2 separate regions of the Homo sapiens genome follow, and region 2 is linked to region 1. The links come from fine-mapping of genetic effects on gene expression. Tissue or cell type: whole blood. Region 1 holds a variant in brackets; the other region holds the start of a gene. All regions are shown on one strand. Distances are between the middles of the regions.

Region 1 (8,103 bases):
GCTGGGATTACAGGCATGTGCCCACTACTCCTGGGTAATTTTTGTATTTTTAGTAGAGACGGGGTTTCACCATGTCGACCAGGCTGGTCTCGAACTTCTGACCTCAAGTGATCTGCCTGTCTTGGCCTCCCAAAGTGCTGGGATTACAGGCACAAGCTACTGCACTGGGCCATGGCCAGGATTTTTATGACTTGTAAAACCACTGTCTTCAAGGAGGCTATAAGTTATTATGGGAGAAAAGTAAAGGGCTTTGTAAAGGGGAGAGCATGTGGATTTTGTGATGTAATTCTCAGTATACCTTCCTTCCTTCCTTTCTTTCTTTTTTTTTTGAGACAGTCTTGCTCTGTCACTTAGGCTGGAGTGCAGTGGCATGATTGACAGGGTTTCGCCAGGTTGGCCAGTCTGGTCTTAAACTCCTAACCTCAGGTGATCTGCCCGCCTTGACCTCCCAAAGTGCTGGGGTTACAGGCCAACATGGTGAAACCCCGTCTCTACTAAAAATACAAAAATTAGCTGGATGCAGTGGTGGGCGCCTGTAATCCCAGCTACTTGGGAGACTGAGGCAGGAGAATCGCTTGAACCCAGGAGGTGGAGGTTGCAGTGAGCCAAGATCATGCCATTGCACTCCAATTTGGGTGACAGAGTGAGACTGTCTCAAAAACAAAAACAAAAACCTGGAGGGTTAGAGGAGGGAAATGGGGTGATGGAATTGGTCTGTACAATTTTCACTGTGAATTTGGGGGAGAATCCCCCCCAAAATAGAAGAAAATTAGGATAAGGCCAGGTGCAAATTGTCAGTGTGTAGAGGAATTGGGTACTTATGAGGAGTAATACAAATAAGAGGTGAAGCTGAAGCACTGGGTTGGGGACCCTATTGTAGACCTTTAATCATAGTTCAGGTGTTTTTTTGTTTGTTTGTTTGTTTGTTTGTTTTTGGAGACAGAGTTTTTGCTCTTGTTGCCCAGGCTGGAGCACAATGGTGCCATTTTGGCTCACTGCAACCTCCGCCTCCCGGGTTCAAGCAGTTCTCCTTCCTCAGCCTCCCAAGTAGCTCTAGGGATTACAGGCACGCACCACCACACCTGGCTAATTTTTTGTATTTACTAGAGACGGGGTTTCACCATGTTGGTCAGGCTTGTCTTGAACTCATGACCTCAGGTGATCCACCCATCTCGGCCTCCCAAAGTGCTGGGATTACAGGCGTGAGCCACCACCCTGGCCCAGTTTAAGTGTATTTGGAGTGACTTTAGGGAATCATTGAAATTTTACCTGCCGGAAAGTGGCACAATTTAGGAAGATTAAATCTAGTTGCTTCTTGAAAAAGTGTGTGGGCTGGCCGTGGTGGCTCATGCCTGTAATCCCAGCAGTTTGGGAGGCTGAGGTGGGTGGATCTCCTGAGGTCGGGAGTTCGAGACTAGCCTGACCAACATGGAGAAACCCCGTCTCTACTAAAAATACAAAATTAGCCGAGTGTGGTGGTGCATGCCTGTATTCCCAGCTACTCGGGAGGCTGAGGCAGGAGAATTGCTGGAACCTCGGAGGCCGAGGTTGTGGTGAGCTGAGATTGCGCCGTTGCACTCCAGCCTGGGCAACAAGAGCAAGACTCCGTCTAAAAAAAAAAAAAGGAGTGTGTGTGTTAGAGTGCGTGCACACACGTGCAGGAGAGATCGCAGTGGGAGGCAGTTAATTGGAACAATATAGAGAAGGGGCTGCTAAGGACCTGAGTATTATGTTTATATTTAACAATTTAAATTAAGATAAGGCTGTGTATGGTGGCTCACACCTGTAATCCCAGCACTTTGGGAGGCCAAGGTGGGTGGATCACCTGAGGTTGGGAGAGACCAGCCTGACCAACGTGGAGAAACCCCGTGTCTACTAAAAATACAAAAATTAGCCGGGCGTGGTGGCATATGCCTGTAATCCCAGCTACTTGGGAGGCTGAGGCAGGAGAATCACGTGAATCCGGGAGACGGAGGTTGTGGTGAGCCGAGATCGAGCCATTGCACTCCAGCCTGGGCAGCAGGAGCGAAACTCTGTCTCAAAAAATAAATTAATTGGCCGGGCGCGGTGGCTCACGCCTGTAATCCCAGCACTTTGGGAGGCCGAGGCGGGCGGATCACGAGGTCAGGAGATCGAGACCATCCCGGCTAAAACGGTGAAACCCCGTCTCTACTAAAAATACAAAAAAATTAGCCGGGCGTAGTGGCGGGCGCCTGTCGTCCCAGCTACTTGGGAGGCTGAGGCAGGAGAATGGCGTGAACCCGGGAGGCGGAGCTTGCAGTGAGCCGAGATCCCGCCACTGCACTCCAGCCTGGGCGACAGAGCGAGACTCCGTCTCAAAAAAAAAAAAAAAATAATAATAAATAAATAAATTAATTAATTAATTAAGGTAAAAGTGTTCAGCTCAATATGTGAGAATTTCCATAAGCAAAAGCCCCTCATTTGTTATCTGGTGTTGATTGAGGATGATTACTAAAGTGATACCTTTTATCTGCTCAATCTTCATGTTAGACACATGTATGGAATGTCATTTAAGTGTCATATAAAATGGAGTGTGGTCCATGGTGTCTGTTGGGAACATTGAATTGTTAAATTCTTTAGGATTTTCTGCCTTTGTTACCTGGCTCTTGTTCCTTATCCTAATCGCCTAAAACAAATCCCTGAGGCTCCTTTCATTGGACCACCCTTAATGATTTAGAGGAGCTGTTGTTTGTTAATCTTTTCACATTGTCATCATTTTGGTTACCTGTCTTTGACTATCTTGAAGTTTTTCAGAGCCCATTTTATTTTTGGAACTATAAAATGAAACATACTTCCCCTTGTATAGAGGCCTAACAGTAAAGAGTACAGAAATTTTGTGGTTTCATATGTATAGGAAATGCTCCCTTATTCTGAGTTTTTGTTTTTTGTTTTTTTTTTAATGTAGAGTATAACTTACTAAATTCTTGTGGAGTTCGCTCATGCAGAGATACTTGGTTTTATAATGTTATTCTTTTCCATCTTGTATTAATCGAGTGTACTTTTCCTTTTTAAATTGAATTCGTTTTTGAATTCTATTGTGGTGCTTCTTTGAGATAAAATTTATGTATGTATAGGTGGTGGTGTTTTTTCTTTTTTTCTTTTTTTCTTTTGAGATGAAGTCTCGCTCTTATCCCCCAGACTGGAGTGCAATGGTGCGATCACGACTCACCGCAACCTCCGCCTCCCGGGTTCAAGTGATTCTCTTGCCTCAGCGCCCCAAGTAGCTGTGATTACAGATGCCTGCCACCACGCCTGGCTAGTTTTTGCACTTTTAGTAGAGATGGGGTTTCACCATGTTGGCCAGGCTGGTCTGGAACTCCTGACCTCAGGTGACCCATCCGCCTCGGCCTCCCAAAGTGCTGGGATTACAGGCGTGAGCCACCACGCCCGGCCTGTATAGGTCTTAAATTCAGTAAATTTTGACAAATGTATACACCTGTGTAACCATGACCTCAGTCAAGGTACAGATATGCAGTGACTTTTTCACTATCACACCCATTCCTGCCACTTTTTTTCATATCCTTACCACTATCTGGAATTTTTATGTGTGCCATCTCCAGTAAAATACAACCTGCATATGTGCATGGATCTGGTAAAATTGTTACTTTTGCTATCCCCTTCTTTCCTACTAAGTGCATCAATAAATAGCATCCACTCTATATTTGTGTCTTTCCTCAAGTAAATACATGAAAATGAGATCCTGCAAGTTTGTGTTTTTATATTAAGTGTTAACTCCAGAGATTGCAACACTGTTCTTGTAGGATGTTTTTTTGGGGAAAGCATTCCTCTTATGGCAGCCTTGTTGGCCTGAGGCAGGGCTTAAACAAACTGATTGAGCAGGCTCAAAAGGACAGTATCGTAATGGACTGGAGTGGCCAGATCTTTCTACAGAAGAAAGAATACGGTAATTTGGCCACGCGCAGTGGCTCATACCTGTAATCTCAGCACTTTGGGAGGCCGAGGTGGGCGGATCATGAGGTCAAGGGATCAAGACCATCCTGGCCAACATGGTGAAACCCCATCTCGACTAAAAAATATACAAAAATTAGCTGGGCATGGTGGCACACGCCTGTAGTCCCAGCTATTCAGGAGGCTGAGGCAGGAGAATTGCTTGAACTTGGGAGGCGGAGGTTGCAGTGAGTGGAGATGATGCTGTTGCACTCCAGCCTGGGCAGCAAGAGGAAAACCTCTGTCTCAGAAAAAATAAAAAATAAAAGAATATGGTAATTTAAGATTCATATGTTTTATCCATCTTGAAAAATACCTTGTGCACATATTTAAAGTCTTTTTACACATTGATTTATTTTGAGTCTATTGTATCTGTCTACATTATTTAAGCAATGTAATCACTAAAAATTTAAGCACTGGGTTGAGCCTTCTGGCATCCCATTAGAATGCCTGGGGAAACACACTTCTTGCCAATTGCATGCCTGCTGATTGGGGAATGAAACGCAAATATTCCAGAATCAACAGATTTCTTTATTTTATTTTATTTGTCACCCAGGCTGGAGTGCAGTGGTGAGATCTTGGCTCACTGCAAACTCTGCCGCCCGGGTTCAAGTGATTCTCCTACCTCAGCCTCCTGAGTAGCTGGGATTACAGGCGACTGCCACCACGCCTGGCTAATTTTTGTAGTTTTTAGT[A/G]GAGATGGGGTTTCACCATCTTGGCCAGGCTGGTCTTGAACTCCTGACCTTAGGTGAGGAGGAAATGCCATTTTGTAAATCCCAAAGTGCTGGGATAACAGGTGTGAGCTACCATACCTGGCCTAGAATCAACAGATTTCTGAACATACTGAATTACTTCTTTCATATTAATTTTCAGACCTTTTCAAAAAAGGATTTGGATACCCTGTTGATATTCATATTCATATTATTATGTTGGCATTCATATAATATGTGTAGGACTTTATAGTTATTTAAAAACCTGTTATAGACTTTTTTGTTTATTATTTAAAACTTTTTTCAGAGGGACTTGTTGCTTTTTTTTTTTTTTTTTGAGATGGAGTTTTGCTCTTGTTGCCCAGGCTGGAGTGCAAGGGCACGATCTAGGCTCACGCAACCTCTACCTCCTGGGTTCAAGTGATTCTCCTGCCTTGGCCTCCTGAGTAGCTGGGATTACAGGCATGTGCCACTCGCCTGGCTAATTTTTTGTATTTTTAGTAGAGACAGGGTTTCACCCTGTTAGCCAGGATGTTCTTCATCTTCGGACCTCAGGTGATCCCCCCTGCCTTGGCTTCCCAAAGTGCTGGGATTACAGGTGTAAGCCACCTCGCCCAGCCTCAGAGGGATTTCTGGTACCAGAATTATAGATTGTTTTTGTTACCGAACTTCCTAAGTTATGCTCGTTCTTTGTTTATTAAGGGGAGACACTAGATTTTTTTTATCACGCTTTTTATCATCATAGAGAACTTTAGTAGTCTACAAGAATATTGTTAGAGGCTTAGCAGTGGCCTCACTGCACATACATGTATATGTCTTTGGGAACCTACAGGTTTTTAAGAAGTCGTTAAACTTAATATTTACTAGATATTTGTTTTTGGATGGCATCTAATATATTAATAGCCCAGAAAAAAGGCGCCACTAATGAATATGTCTTGGATTACATAGTGACATATATTAGCTTTTCGTCCACATTTGATAACATTGCTAATATTTTTTTTTTTTTTACTGAAGCTCTTTGAATTTAAAGTTTTCTCTCATTTAAATTTATTAATTGAAAACATACCTTTACTCTGTTCCCTTTAGCATTTCAACCTGATGTTAAAAGATGTGTATGTGTGATATGTGTGTTTGAAATTTTAACTTTCATCTTGGAGTATTTAATTCTCTGAAGCAGTGCATGACTCTTGCTCTTCAGCCTCTTGAGAGTGTCCCTGGTTTATATTCCTGATGATACAAACCCTGGAATTTCTTGTCTGAAGTGTTAACACTTTATTTCCAGGTCCTAATTTGATTTGAATAGTGGAAGTTCAGATTCAATGCATTAATGACAGATTCTATGTTGACTTCTTCAGATTTGCCAGACAGAAAAATCTACTTATGTGAGGAAATCATTAGGCTTTTTGACTATCCTCTTTGTATAATGAGACTCTTTTCTCATTAGATGAGTAAAAAGATCCAGAGATGATCACCAGTATCCCCCAGAATTCATATATATTTAATTGAAAAGAAAGCAAATCCTGGGATTCTTTCCTAAAAAGGTTGATTACATTTCTTGCCTGTCTGTACGTTCTTTGTATAAACGTGAAGAAAAATAAAAATATAGGTTTTCCAGCACTGGGACTATGAAATTTGAGATTTAACATTTATTCATTAGTCAGATTTAAAGGAATCTACCTTAAGTCATAGTTTATATTGTTTTTGAAGGACCTGAGTAAGGATTCTATTAAAAATGATTAATTCTGTCATTATTTGAAATATTGATAGGATTTTAATATGTTCCTTTTTTGAAAATACTAGAATTATAAATTACACTTAATAGCAAATAGGTCGTAAGTATGTGGTAATCAATTTATTGACTAAAAATTTTGTAAAAGATGCCTTTTATTTAAAGTGGCCTATCGTATAGTTACTATAATGCTAGTGCTCTCTACATTTTCATTGTAATCTTACTGAAGAAGTAAAAATTAATCATTGTTCTCCCCACTCTAATATTAATTCAGAAATCATAATTGTACACATAGGGTACAACGTAATGTTTATATATATGTGTGTAATGTAGTATGATTAAATCATGCTAATTAACATACTATCGCCTTACTTTGCTTACTTATATTTTGTGGTGAGGCATTTGAAATTTACTCTTAATTGTTTGAAATACATTATTATTATTGCTATTGTTATCTGTGTCTTCTCTTTGCAAATAAATACATCATTATTTACTATGGCCACCCTGTTGTGCAAAGATTTCAAAAACTCTTCTCCTATGTGAAATTTGTTCCCTTTTCTTTTTCCAAAAAAAAAAAAAAATCCACCTGCTGTCTTAGCATAAAAATAGAACCAGTGTGTTTTAGATTCCTCTCTAAGTGTCTTTATTTTTAAGAATGTATTTTTTTTTTTTTTTTTTGAGACGGCGTCTTGCTCTGTTGCCCAGGCTGGAGTGCAGTTGGCACCATCTTGGCTCACTGCAATCTCCACCTCCCGGGTTCAAGCGATTCTCCTGCCTCAGCCTCCCATGTAGCTGGGATTACAGGTGCATGCCACCACGCCTGGCTAATTTTTGTATTTTTAGTAGAGACGGGTTTCACCGTGTTGACCAGGCTGGTCTCAAACTCCTGACCTCAGGTGATACGTCCGCCTCAGCCTCCCAAAGTTCTGGGATTACAGATGTGAGCCACCGTGCCCAGCTAGAATGTGTGTATTTTAAAAAGTTGATCCTTCACAGATATTTATCTTAGGAGAGGCTGGTGTCATGAAAAAAGCTATGGACTAAGAATGGGAAGACAAAGATCTTCTGTATTGGCACTACCAGCTGTGTCCCTCTGAGGGGGTAATTTTTGCCTTTTGAAGACGTTGGGAGGGTTAAAGTTCAGGAAATTATTTTTAAAACTGTTCCAGTGAATATTTAGAAAAATATTAGTGGAGATAGAATTAATTGCTCTGCAGTGGAGTGGCTCTCTTTCTACATTTTCTTTTTTTCTTTTTTCCTTTTTTTTTTTTTTTTTGAGACGGAGTCTCGCTCTGTCCCCCAGGCTGGAGTGCAATGGTGCGATCTCAGCTCACTGCAACCTCCGCCACCCGGGTTCAAGCGATTATCCTGCCTCAGCCTCCTGAGTAGATGGGATTACAGGCATGTGCCACCGCACCCAGCTAATTTTTTTTTTGTATTTTTAGTAGAGGCGGGGTTTCACCTTGTTGGCCAGGCTGGTCTTGAACTCCTGACCTTGTGATCCATTCACCTCTGTCTCCCAAAGTGCTGGGATTACAGGTGTGAGCCACCGTGCCTGCCCTCTTTCTACACTTTCTAGTATAGTCCCATTAGGCTGTAAACCTATTTCAAGTTGAACGATAAGAAATTTCAGCATAGCTCTGCATCATCATTTTTTCTCCATATCTTGTATTCACACCTTAAGAATTTGTTACT
Region 2 (8,103 bases), 71 kb before region 1:
TTGCCCTACCATCCCCTATCCCAAAGGGCGTCAGGACCAGGTGCCCACGCTGGTGCTTGATGCGGGCAGAACTGTCACCAAAACCCTTGCCACACTCTGCACACTTGTATGGCTTCTCCCCCGTGTGTGTACGCCTGTGTTTGACCAGATCTGAGCTCCGGGGGAACTCCTTCCCACAGAAGCCACACACGTGGGGCTGGCTGGGTCCAGAAGGCTGGGCCCGAACTCGGGGTCGAGGGGCCATGGGTACTGGGCCAGGTGGGTTATGTGGCCGCAGCAGAGTGGATGGTGGTGGTGGCCGGGCCCGTTCACCACGGTGGGTGCGGAGGTGCTTGACTCGGGCTGAGCTGTCAGCAAAACCCTTGCCGCATTCAGGACAGAGGTAGGGTTTCTCCCCTGTGTGCACACGATGGTGTTTCACCAGGTCAGAGCTTCGGCGGAAGCCCTTGCCACACTCAGGGCACTTGTGGGGCTTGTCGCCCGCCAGTGGTGGGGGTGGCTCCCCAGCCTGTGGGCCCCCAGGCTCTGGCTCCAAGCCAGGCAGGCCAAAAGGCTCACCCGAGTGTGAGGGACTTCGAGGTGTCAGCGGGGGGCTGGTGCCCAGAGGAGGTGGGGGTGGGCTGGGGATCAGAGCGGGTAGGGGATAGCCTGGGAAGCTGAAGTCCTGGGGCTCCATGTGAGTGAGGCGGTGGCGAAGAAGGGTGGAGCTGAGGCTGAAGGTACGGTCGCATTCCGGGCAGGCATGGGGCCTCTCGCCACTGTGGGTGCGGAGGTGTTTGACTCGGGCGGAGCTGTCCGCGAAACCTTTGCCGCACTCTGGGCAGAGGTAGGGCTTCTCACCCGTGTGCACCCGCAGGTGCTTCACCAGGTCGGATCCCCGGGCAAACTCCTTTCCACACACATCACAGCCAAAGGGCTTGGGCCCCAAGTGACTACGCTGGTGACTCAGGAGGCTGCAGCTGAGCACAAACCTCTTGCCGCAATCAGTGCAGATATATGGCTTGTCCTGGGCCTTCGGTCCCTGGGTAGCTGCCGTGGCTGCCCGAGATGGCTGCCGTCGGGGCACCACTGGTCGGGGGGGCTGCTCCCCCCGGTGTGTCCGCTGGTGCTTGATGCGGGCGGAACTGTCGCCAAAGCCCTTGCCACATATGCCACACTTGTAGGGCTTCTCACCAGTGTGTGTCCGCTGGTGTTTCACCAGGTCAGAACTCTGCCGGAAGCTCTTGCCACATTCACCACAGATAGTGGGGCGCTCACCAGCAGGGATCCGGGACCGAGGAATCTTTGGGGGACCCTGGGCTGGTGGCCGGGCTCTATAGGGCTTCTCCCCACTATGAGTCCGCTGGTGTTTGATCCGGGCAGAGCTATCCCCAAAGCCCTTGCCACAGACCCCACACTTGTAGGGTTTCTCCCCTGTGTGGGTCCGCTGGTGTTTCACCAGATCTGACATCTGCCTGAAGCTTTTGCCACACTCACCACACACAGCGGCCCGATCACTACTAGCCTGGCCCCAGCGTGGTTCACCCAGGAGCCGGGGGCCTCTGTCCCGAGGCTGAGGCTTTCCTAGACCCTCTCTCTGGACCCATAAGTCATCCCAGTTCTGGATGCCTTCAGGTTTGAGAGAGGCATTTCCTACTTCATGATCTGGAGCCAAATCTTCTTCCTTGAACCCCAAGTCATCTTCCTGTGGGGTATGTTCAAACTCATTCGGCTGAGAAATCACGTTCTCACTCCCTAGACCTGAGGAAAGAAAAGGAAGTTGTAGACCCTCCCCTTTGGCTCGGTACTTATCTTTGACAGCAACCTCTCCAGGAAGACTCCCTTGACAATCTGTGGTCACAGGAACCCCAATCTCTCTGTCCTCTCAACCTCTGGTGCACTTACTATCTGTGCCTCTCAATAAAAACTTCTTTTTACTGTGCCCTTAATGTATGTCATTCACCAAACTCAGCATTAGTATTAAACGCTTGCAAACAATACTATAACACTATGACTATCCCCATATTACAGGCATGGAAAGACTCAGAGAATTTAAGTCCTTTTGCTGGAGGTTATAAAGGTTAGAAAGTAGCAAAGCCAGGCCAGCAGGGTGGCTCACACCTGTAATCCTAGCACTTTGGGAGGCCGAGGTGGGTGGATCACTTAAGCCCAGGAGTTAGAAACCAGCCTGGGCAACATGGTGAGACCCTAACTCTACAAAAAAAAATACAAAAATTAGCTGGGCATGGTGGTGCACACCTGTAGTCCCAGCTACTGGGAGGCTGAGGTAGGAGGATCACTTGAGCCCAGGAGGTGGAGGCTGCAGTGAGCTGTGATTGTGCCACTCTAGCCTGGGTGACACAGTGAGACCCTGTCGCCAAAAAAAAAAAAAAAAAAAAAAAGTAGCAAAGCGTGATGTCTAACTAAGGTCTCTCTGACACTCAAGCCCGTGTTAATCCCTACATTATATTGTCTATTTGGAAAACTTGGTATTTGCTATTATTATTGTATCTTATTATATTAGCCCATTCGGTAATTTATTACATCAGTTATCCTGTGTGTACCTGAGAGGACCCAGGCACACATCCCTTCCTCAAGAAGCTTAGGGTGGTAGGAGAGATAAGATTAAAGTATCAATGGTTATAATTGTGGGTGCAGAATAACTAGAATAACTATGTTGTCACAAGAGAGATAGGAGATAAGGAAATAGGAACCGGCATTACGGCAGAGCGAAGAGAAAATAATGGAGTGGAATGGAAGATAAGGTGTCAAAGGATGTTGGGACTAACCTGAGCACGCACGGTTTGGATTGGACACTAGCTAAGGCTTTTAATTAGGAGACTGGGGGACGCTAGGGAAGGTTTTCCAGAAGAGACACAGGATTATATCTGGACTTAGATCAAGCTGGCGAGAGAATGCATCAGTGGAGAGAAAGGGGCAGAGAGGAGGCTACTGCAATTGCCAGGATAAAACAGAATGAAGCCTGAAGTAGGGCAGAGGCAGTAAGGATGAGGAAGGCCGTGAGGGAGGGGACAGAGGCCGTGAAGAGCCCCTCCCGGCCTGGCGCACAGTTGGTGCTCCGAAAGCTCCCCTCCCCCTATCTCCCCAGAGGCACAGCTCACGTCCGATCTTCCAGGATCTCGGCCGGCCACAGCCAAGCATCGCAGTCCCCACCGGCCGTTACCTGTCCGTGGCGGCGCACGGCCGAGGCCCTCACCTGTGCGGGCGCCTCTCTGTGGCTCCCTCTCCTCCGGGCGGTGGAGATCTGGGCCCCAAGGCTCTACCGCGCGCTCCATCGCCGGCACGCCGCCCTGAGCAAGGGGACAGACAGCATCCCGCGGTCACGCAGCCATGTGTGGCCCGCGGCGCCCTGCCGCTGCCCTCTGCCGGCCAGCGCGGGCACCGGGCGGCGTCGGGTCCCAGGTACGGGCGCGGCTCCCGGTGCCCCCTGCCCGCGCCGCCGGCCGCCCCTGCACCTGCTGCTCCTCCCAGCGCGCAGCCGCCGCTCTCACCTTGCCGGCCGCCTCCGGCTCCGCCACCCCGGCGCCCTCCGGAGCTCCTCAGCGGGGTGCAGGCGCCCGAGCCGCCAGCGGCTCCGGGATGCAGGCTCCGCGCCAAGCCGGGAGCGGGCTCGGACCCAGGCGTCCCGGGGGCGGCCACCGGGGGCGGGGACGGGAAGCGGAAGCGCGGGGCCGCACGGAGCCGCTCTAGGACCTTGGAGGAGCTGCGGGCCTGTGGGGGTCGCCCGCGTCGGCGGTAGCTCTGTGGCCGGCGGGCGGCAGCGTGCGGCCCAGGGGCTACTCTAAGCCGAGGCCGGCGGCCCGAACTCGGTGGTATTAACCGTGTGCCTCCTGGGCTGCAGCTGGGTGGTGAGGCCCGAGGCTCTTCGTAATTGTGGCTGTGTGTCTCCAGCCACCCGCGCCGACCTCCCCGGCCGGCCGACAGCGCCAGCCACTCCGACCTGGGAGAGACAAAGAAAGAGGGATCCAAAGACGGACCCGGGGAAAGGGGTGGGGGAGAGACCAAGGCAGACAAAGGGCGGCGGAGACCCCAGACGGGGCGGGGCGGGGCGCCGAGACGTGGGAAACAAAGCGGGGCTGGTCCGAGAGGCCGAGGGCCCGGGGTGGGGGTGGGTATGGAATGGGGGCTGGGCTGGGGAGACCGAGGCAGGAGCAGAGGCTAGAGGCAGACACCGGGTAAATGCTGCTGGAGAGATGGAATCAGACCTGGGGCCCGGAACAGAGACCCTGAGCCAGAGACTCACATCAGAGCCCTGAGTCACAGAGGACGCAAAGGCAGAGAGAGACCGAGGGACAGCGGCTGACCAAAAATAAGGGGAGCCAAAGATTAGCCGCTAGAGACAGAGACGTAGAAACGGATAAGAGATAAAGTCATTGACGCAGAGTCCGAGGAGCAGTAAGAGGCTGGGAGCCTGGAGAGTAACAGGCCCAGAAGCAGAGGAACAAAAGACGATAGTGAGCGAAACGGGCAGAGACAAAGAGAAAGAGACACAAAGAAAGAGGCGGCCAGAAAGACTCCGGACAGGTCGGCAGCCCTATAGAGGCCAGGCTCAGGGAGAGGCTGAAGAACAAGCCCTGTTTCCCATCCTGGTGGGCCCCTGGCTGGAGCTGTGTTTCCAGGTTCCCAGGCCCTAGGAGCAAGATCCCAGTATCCGCTCTCTGGGCGGGCTTGGTTTTGGGGTGGAGAGAGTGTCTGGAGGTGTCTTCAGCCCCTCTGCCAATGATGGTGGGGGTAACTGTGGTTTATGCATTAATTCACATTTATTAGCATCTTAGTGCTAAGCCAAGAGTTGGGGATAAAAAGTTGAAACACCTGCAAGATTTGTCCTTGGAGAGCTACCAGTCTAAAGGAGCAAGTACACAAATCACTGAAATTAGAGAATTTAGCTGGGCCTGGTGGCCTGCCCCTGTAATCCCAGCTGAGAGGATTCCCTGAACCTGGGCATTCAAGGATGCAGTGAGCCATGATCGTGGATCGTGCCACTGTACTCCATGCTGGGCAACAGAGCGAGACCCTGTCTCTTTAAAAAAAAAAAAAAAGAGAGAGAGAATGGGCTGGGCCCAGTGGCTCATGCCTGTAATCCCAGCACTTTGGGAGGCCAAGGTGGGAGGATCACTTGAGGCCACTAGTTCGAAACCAGCCTAGGCAAAAAAGTGGACCTTGTCTCTACAAAAAAAAAACAAAAATTTAGCAGCGCATGGTAGCACATATCTGTGGTCCTGGCTACACTGGAGACTGAGGCAGGAGGATCACCTGAGCCCAGGAGGTTGAGGCTGCAGTAAACCATATTTGTGACACTGCCCTTCAGCCTGGGTAATAGAGCGAGACCCCATCTAAAAAAAAAAGAGAAAGAAAGAGAGACTGTTAAGGTAGTTATATGGACCCGGCCAGGTGCAGTGGCTCACACCTGTAATCCCAACACTTTGGGAGGCCGAGGCAGGTGAATTACATGAGGTCAGGAGTTTGAGACCAATCTGGCCAACATGGTGAAACCCTGTCTCTACTAAAAATACAAAACTTAGCAGGGCGTGGTGGCACGGGCCTGTAATCCCAGCTACTCAGGAGGCTGAGGCAGGAGTATCACTTGAACCTGAGAGGCGGAGGTTGGAAAGAGCCGAGATCACGCCACTGCATTCCAGCCTGGGTGACAGAGTCAGACTGCGTCTCAAAAAAATAAATAAATAAAATTTAAAAGGCCGGGTGTGGTGCCTCACACCTGTAATCCCAGCCCTTTGGGAGCCAGAGGCAGGAGCTCACTTGAGGTCAGGAGTTCCAGACCAGCCTGGCCAACATGGTGAAACCCCATCTCTACTAAAAATAAAAAAATTAGCAGGGCGTGGTGGCAGGCGCCTGTAATCCCAGCTACTTGGGAGGCTGAGGCAGGAGAATCACTTGAACCCCAGAGGCGGAGGTTGCAGTGAGCTGAGATCGCGCCATTGCACTCCAGCCTGGGGGACAAGAGCGAGACTTCATCTCAAGAAAAAAAAAAAAGAGTTATATGGACCAATTCACGATAGTGTGGGAGAACAGGAAGGGTTCTAGTTTGTAGTAATGAATCTCTGTGTGCCTGGCATGCATGGATGTTAGCACTGACAGAAACAGGGACCAGAAATCAACACATACCTATTGATCACTAGCTAATACCTAAACACTGTCCTAGGCCCTGGAAATAAAGAAACTCTTCAGGGAGCTCTTGGCCCAATAGGATATGGAGTTGTCAGATGGTGTGACAGGTTCTATATTGACTGTATGGACAAAATTTTATAGGAGTGTAGCGCACAGAGATACCTTCTGTAGTGTTCAGTGGGTGCAGATACTGTCTTTAAAGCCATTTATGCAGAGTGTGGTTCTTGGCCTTTGTCACTTAATTGCTACTTGACTTTAGGGAAGTTACTTAAGCTTCTGTTTCCCAAACTGTAAAATAGGGATGATAACAGCTAACTTTGATGGTTGAGGATGAATATGTGTAAAGCACTTAGCAAAAGTATCAGCTATTACTCTAATTGGTTTGATTTCGGCAAAGTCCAGACTCTGCCTGGAGTGGGGGCTGAATGAACAACTCCAGGCAGTGGGGGCTGAATAAACAGTGGGCCACATACTAATTGAAAACCTAATATGGGCCAGGCATGGTGGCTCACGCCTGTAATCCCAACACCTCGGGAGGCTGAGGTGGGCAGGTCTCTTGAGTCCAGCAGTTTGAGACCAGCCTGGCCAACATGGTGAAAACCCATCTCTAAAAAGATACAGGGCCGGGGGCGGTGGCTCACTCCTGTAATCCCAGCACTTTGGGATGCCGATGTGGGTGGATCACGAGGTCAGAAGATTGAGACCATCCTGGCTAACACAGTGAAACCCCGTCTCTACTAAAAATACAAAAAAATTAGATGGGCGTGGTGGCAGGCGCCTGTAGTCCCAGATACTCAGGAGGCTGAAGCAGGAGAATGGCGTGAACCTGGGAGGCGGAGCTTCCAGTTAGCCGAGATCGCGCCACTGCGCTCCAGCCTGGGCGACAGAGCGATACGCCGCCTCAGGAAAAAATAAAATAAATAAAAAGATACAAAAAAGTTAGCTGGGAGTGGTGGTGCACACCTGTAGTCCCAGCTACTTGGGAGGCTGAGGTGAGAGGATCTCTTGGGCGCGGGAGGTGAAAGTTGCAGGGAGCTGAGATCATGCCACTGCACTCCAGCCTGGGTGACAGAGCAAGACCCTATCCCACCCCCACCCCCCCGCCAAAAAAAAAGGAGAAAGAAAAGGAAAGAGAAAGAAAACCTTAGGCTGGAATCAGTGGCTCACGCCTATAATCCCCACACTTTGGGAGGCTGAGGCAGGTGAATCACCTGAGGTCAGGAGTTCGAGACCAGTTTGGCCAACATGGTGAAACCCCATCTCTACTAAAAAATACAAAAATTAGCCAGATGTGGTGGTACGCGCCTGTAATCCCAGCTACTCGGGAGGCGGAGGCAGGAGAATCGCTTGAACTCGCGAGCCGGAGGTTGCAGTGAGCTGAGATCACACCACTGCATTCCGTTCTGGGCAACAGAACAAAACTCTGTTTAAAAAAAAAAAAAGAAAAGAAAAAGACTGCCAGGAGCAGTGGCTCACGCCTGTAATCCCAGCACTTTGGTAGGCTGAGGCGGGCGGATCATGAGGTCAGGGGTTGGAGACCAGCCTGACCAACATGGTGAAAACCTGTCTCTACTAAAAATAAAAAAATTAGCTGGAGGTGGTGGTGCTCACCTGTAATCCCAGCTACTCAGGAGGCTGAGGCAGGAGAATCATTTGAACCCGGGAGGCAGAGGTTTCAGTGAGCAGAGATCACTGCACTCCAGCCTGGGCGACAGAGTGAGACTCCGTCTCAAAAAATAAAAATAAAAGAAAACCTAATGTGTGCTAGAAGCTTGAGATCCAAAGATGACTATGGATTACGACCTATCTTCAGAGAGGAAAATAGAGAATAGTTCCGTTTTAATGTGCCGTGAGTTTACATATTAGGAAAGCAGTGAAAGATGAAGATAGAATGTAAGTTTATTCGGCCGGGCGCAGTGGCTCACGCCTCTAATCCCAGCACTTTGGGAGGTCAAGGTGGGCAGATCACGAGGTCAG

What was found. PIP is the estimated chance that this variant, and not a neighbour inherited with it, causes the effect.
Region 2: ZNF48 starts here. The variant in region 1 is fine-mapped to the expression of ZNF48 in whole blood (TOPMed, PIP 0.95).

What each region holds. Positions count from the first base shown.
Region 1 is chr16:30,320,136-30,328,238 of GRCh38, reverse strand. It overlaps the pseudogene SMG1P5. Among named protein-coding and RNA genes, the nearest start is that of CD2BP2, 31 kb to the left of the region's middle. RefSeq lists a silencer at 3,140-3,189. The variant A/G (reference allele first, on the strand shown) is at 4,665.
Region 2 is chr16:30,390,967-30,399,069 of GRCh38, reverse strand. ZNF48 (zinc finger protein 48) reads right to left here and starts at 3,650. Exons shown (of 3, transcript NM_001214909.2): 1 at 3,492-3,650; 2 at 3,197-3,290; 3 at 1-1,740. The coding sequence starts at 3,275. RefSeq lists enhancers at 1-297, 2,632-3,228, 5,230-5,730 and silencers at 3,199-3,458, 3,549-3,738.